Linked DNA regions of Homo sapiens. The protein of the gene in region 2 purifies or fractionates together with the protein of the main gene of each other region. This does not show direct contact. Each region holds a gene or a part of one and is shown on either strand. Other genes may lie near its edges.

Evidence for each region.
Region 1: the proteins of OR3A1 (region 2) and ALDH1A2 purify together in Homo sapiens (affinity purification with mass spectrometry; one large-scale study listed by BioGRID and IntAct). This does not show direct contact.

The regions. Positions count from the first base shown.
Region 1 is NC_000015.10:57,952,899-57,955,621, reverse strand, and holds the end of ALDH1A2 (retinal dehydrogenase 2), read left to right. Parts: intron 1-352; coding exon 353-425; 3' UTR 426-2,193; downstream 2,194-2,723. UniProt on the Homo sapiens protein: Catalyzes the NAD-dependent oxidation of aldehyde substrates, such as all-trans-retinal and all-trans-13,14-dihydroretinal, to their corresponding carboxylic acids, all-trans-retinoate and all-trans-13,14-dihydroretinoate, respectively.
Region 2 is NC_000017.11:3,290,310-3,293,062, forward strand, and holds the end of OR3A1 (olfactory receptor 3A1), read right to left. Parts: intron 2,280-2,753; 5' UTR 2,274-2,279; coding exon 1,326-2,273; 3' UTR 708-1,325; downstream 1-707. UniProt on the Homo sapiens protein: Odorant receptor.

The DNA.
Region 1 (2,723 bases), on a different chromosome or scaffold from region 2:
AGCCTGGGGTCATCTGTGTGCCCTCTGGCCAAGGCTGATGGTAGTTCTCTGAGTAATTGAGAGTCATTGCCTGTCTGTGCAGTATTGTGAAAACAAGTCACCTTTTAACTTTAAAACTACTTTAAAAAACTTTAAAGTTTTAAAAAAACTTCTTTAAAAACTACTCATGAGATGACAGTTTCTCTGACCCTCAGAGGAAGGCTGGGCTGCGCATACGTGAGGAATTTTTACATGAACATCCCAGGACTTGCTGTTCGCAGGTGATAAACTGCACCTCCCCAGGACTCCCGCTGCACTCACATGCAGCTCCCTGGACTTCTGGTATCTGACCCGGCCCATTTCTGTGTTTCAGGGGAGAATTTGGCTTGCGGGAGTACTCAGAAGTTAAGACGGTGACAGTAAAGATCCCCCAGAAGAACTCCTAAGAAGGCCAAGAAGGAGGATGAAGCCCAGCCTGCACGTCTGTCCCTCTCTGCTTTCTCTGTAGGGCCCAGCTCTCAGGAATACAAAGTTGAGCCACGGTCCTTACTTAAAGATTGAAAAGATAACATGTAGGCCAGGCAGGTCACTGCACAACTAAAGCAAACCAGCTGGGTACAGTTTCTTGGCACTCTGTAAGGGGCCACCTTAATCATACCAAATATTGGGGAAAGTGGGATAAAGGGAGGAGGAGGAGCTAGCAGACACATCCAGTATCTCCTTCTGGAGCACAGGATGAAATAAGGGAGCTGTATTATTTCATGTCTTTGTCACAAAGAACTTTCCTCTCAAGGAAAGGTGACCTTTCTCCTGTCTTCATTTTCCTCCTTCCAGGCCCTCCTCGCTCACCCACCCCTCCCTCTCTTCCAAGGAGATGTCAGCTGAGCTCATTCTGGGGCAGATGTTTGGGCCGGGAACAATTTTTCAAGGTTGTAAAGCCAAATTATCATTTCATGTTATCCATTTCTTCAAAGCAAAACATGAAATGGTTTTAGCTAGAGTCAGACCAGAATGAAAATGCCAGGAGCTGGTACACTACAGATGTAGTAAGAACCTGGGATATTCCTGACCCAATCTGGTTTTCTTTTACCCATAAATAACATGAATGAAAAAAGATTGGGACAATAGAGACTGGAAGTCATCATGTGCAGTTCACCGCTTCTGAGCTTGCTGCAGTTTTGGGGTGTGTGTGTATTAGATTCCTTCTCAGTTATTCTGGAATAAGGCAAGGAGTGGGTTGTTTTTCATAGCTAGATAAGATCTTTTCCAAAGTTTTTCTTAGAACCAACCAAAAAACAATCCGAGTAGGCCCAAGAATTTGATAATGCTGGATGCCTTGCAGACATCATTCAGTTTCTAATATTGGGCAACAATTATTATTAAATGAATTATTTCTGTAGTTGGAATCTGTACCTTCTGAACCTCTACACCAATAACTGCTGCAGGTGTGATTTTGGTCTGTCACACTGTACATCTATCATAATGTGCCCTGTATCTATTGGCAGTGACCTTGGAAAATCTGGCCAAGCCTAGGGGTTTCCTTTTCCATTTGCCAAGTTCCATTGTGCCAGGACTGCCGTGCTCCACTGAGCTCCTCTGTCACACCCCATTCTTGCCCCTCACTGGGCAGGCCATGGCCTACAGCTTGCAGGGAGTAAAGCAGGCCCGCCTCCCTTTCTTCCCATCCACATACTCCTCTTCTGCTTTCCAGTGACTCCACCAGTTTGATGTGGGAAGTGTTAGCTTCCTTTCCTTCTTCCATCCCTTCTTCCATCTTTCCAGCTGTCAAATCCAATCCAGTCTCTAACCTAAATGCAGATCATTTATTTAAAAGTACCAAACATAACCCAGAGTATGTGGAATATGGGCAACATATATATAGCCTTCTGTATTTAACGATCTTCTGCTTCTTAACCGTACCAGTTTTCTATTTATAACTCTTATCTATCCATGATGTTTTAAAGTCTCCACTTGCTGTTATTTACAAACGACAGTGCATTCAGCAGCCCAGTGCCGTGAGCCCTGACAGATGCCGTATTTCTGAGTGCTTCCATGTGAATGCTGCCCTCCTGTAGCATGTGTCCAAGTGGACATAGCCACTAACCAACTAGTTACCTTTGGACTGCAACAAAAAATGTGAAAATGAAGATTTATTTCTTTTAATTTACTTAAAAAGAAACCTCTGTGCTAGCAATAAAGCATTTATATTGTGTACTCCTTGGGATTGTTTGGCTGTGTCTGTAAGTCTTTGGGTCATACTGAGTCTCTTTGGGTCCTTCCTCAGCTGCTGGGTTTTTCAGCTGTGTTGCCCTCTTGGGTAACTGAGCAGAAGCCTGCAAGGGTATTTTTACAGAATTCATTAAGGCAACTGGTAAATGGTATTAAGGTAAACAAAAACCTTATTTTCTGATGCTATTTAAAATCTGTGTGCATGTGTAGTTTAGCTGGCATGTAAGTATAACCATATATGAAATATATGAAATAACAAGTTTCCTTTAGAATAGCCTCCATGAAAACTAAAATGCAGAGCAGTCTATAGGGTCTGTTTTCACAAACGTGGACTACCCGCCGTGAGCTCACATTGCTGATGGCATTTCACAGTAGCTTTATTTTTACTTACTTACCAAAGTGAAATGAAGTCAGAGGCTGATAACCTGATGGAATATTTTTGCAGCTGTAAAAAGAAATCTGTAAATGGTGACCGTACTACTACCAAGATTGAGCTTGTTTTCTCTCAGTGTGTT
Region 2 (2,753 bases):
TATCCAATTCCTCCATTCTTTCTCATTTCCCATTCTGTGTACCACGTTTGGTCCTAACCCCCTCCACTTGCAATTCTCTCCCAGTTCTCCCTATTCCTCATCTTTCCACTTCATTTTCCTACCAACTCTCCTCCTCCAGTCTTGTTTTGCTTCCCTCTTTTGTGTCTTTTCTCTTTATCTCTATCTTACTGCATCTATTCAATCCCTCACCCCCATAAAATATTATAGAGAAGCCAAGTCACAGGTGCCAGTCAAAGGAAAGTTTTAGGAAAATGCATTTGGAAACAGCAGTGGCACAGCAGAGTTGCCAGGAATGGGCAATGAGTCCTAAATGGGAAGCTGAAAAGATACAGCGAAATCATGGCTGGTTTAACTTCAAGCAAGTTGAGCTAATGCTCTGGGTCAGAGCCACACTCCCCTACTGAGAAGGGACATTCAGGGTGACTCCTCACCATATGACTTGCATTTATAGTTATGGATTATCTCAGCAAGGAGGTTTGGAGACTAAGAGTGAGAGTTTTGGAGAAATTTTCATATTGAGTAGTCTTGGATTTTCTGAAATATGTAAATAATGCTTAGATTATAAATTCTTATCTTTTCAAAAAATTTGAAACACATGGGAGAAAAAGATGAGGAAAATTCATTTTTGTAACATAAGATATATAATACATATTAATGGAGTTTTAGCATTTGGAAACAAGTCTGTGAGCTGCACACAGGTATCAGGTGCTCCAGAATTACTAGAGAATACATAATCATACAGCTTCCCCTCTGTCCCCTGTCTATGCTATGGGGTCCTTGTTTAATGGGAATAGAAAGAGCTACTTTTTTGTTTTTGTTTCTTTTTGTTTTATTTTTGCTTTTAGAGTTCTGATGGGAGAAATAAAACAATCCTAATCTCTAGACCTATGTTTTATAAACAGACCAAGCACACCTGAACTTGAGGGAAAAATATGACTTCTGGCGGGGAGTTTTCTGGGGTACTTCTGGCAACTAAGGCTGTAACCAACCAAAGAGTCATTCCTTCTGGAACATGAACCTGTCAGCACTCACAGCTTCCTAGGTTTCACCTCTAGCCAGAAAGGAGAGAACACGGTGCCTGAAGCTGAATTTGTCTAAGGGGCTGGCTTGGCAGATCCTATACACTCATTGCTTATAATTGGACAGGGCTGCTTTCAGAAATGAAAACTATTATTCCCTACAAAAAGTCCTTCTTATGCCCATGAAACAGAAACAGGTGTGAACCATTTTTTTCCTAGTTTCTGGCTCTAGAAGACTTTTCCTTTAGTACAAGACACAGGGAGAAAGGGTCAATTGAGACCTCCTCAAGCCAGTGACCGCCTCCCTGTGAGCATCCTCCAGATGGCACTCTGCACATCAGGGTTTCTGAAGCTGTAGATGATTGGGTTCAGCATGGGATTGATGACAGTGTTGAAAATTCCAACAGCTTTATCCTTGTCTGAAAGCTTGGTTGAACCCAGTCGCATATAGTTAAAGATACCTGAACCATAGAATATGGCAACCACAGTGAGGTGGGAGCCACATGTGGAGAAGGCTTTCTTCCTGCCCTCTACAGAGCGAATTCGCAGGACTGCAGCTGCCACGTGGATATAGGAGATGACAATGAGAGCCATGGGGGTACCTGCCATTATAAAACCCACAGCAAAAAGCAGCAGCTCATTGAGTTGGGTGCTGGAGCAGGAGAGCTGGAAGAGCTGTGGGAGGTCACAGTAGAAGTGATTGATCACATTGGGGCCACAGAAGTTGAGCGTGGACATGGCCACAGTGTGGGTCAGTGCGTTGGTGAAAGCACAAGCCCAGGACGCAGCCACCAACATCCTCTGGACTGTCTGACTCATGCGGGTGCTGTAGGTGAGGGGCCGGCAGATGGCCAGGAATCGGTCATAGGCCATGGCGGTCAGCAGGAAGCAGTCCACTCCAACGAACAGATGGAAGAAGAAGAGCTGGGTAAGGCAGGCCCCACAGGGAACTGCACGCTTGCGGGACAGGAGACGACTCAACATTGATGGAACAGTGACGCTGATGCACCCAACATCCAGCACTGATAGGTTCCCCAGGAAGAAGTACATGGGGGTGTGGAGTTTGGGCTCCACCAAGACAGCTGCCAGGATGCTGAGGTTGCCCCTGACCGTGACCAGGTAGGCAAAGAGGAAGAGCACAAAGACAACTGGCTGCAGCCCTGGCGCCTCCAGCAAGCCCAGCAGGATGAACTCAGCAATGACTGTTCCATTGGCCCCAGATTCTGGCTGCATGAGTTCCTGCAAAGAAACATCCAGGGAGGAAAAGAATCACTCCTCCCAATAATTTATTTACTCAAGAAAAAGAAACAGACCCCCTTCTACTTGCCCGGCCCTCTGCCACGTTCCCTCTGTACAAGTAAGGAATTTTGCGCTCCTTAGGCCACACTACACTTGTTTACTCTGTCGCTACATTTACCTGAATAACTTTATTTGCAGGCGTAAGCACAGGTAACATTACCACTCTGGACCTCCCTCCTCCAACCCGCCCCCCAGCTGCAAGAACCTATTTGTAAAGATTATGAAAGACAAACCCTTGGGAAAAATAAGCAAAAAGTGTACTTCTGGTTTGAACATGGCCGAGTAAATCCAAAATGTTCTCTTCTCAGAACTTATCTCTTTCCAAAACAAGCAGAAAAATAAACATACAGATTCTATCTTCAAAGAAACTAGTAAGTGTCCACAACCCCAATCCATAAACTAGATTGGATGGAT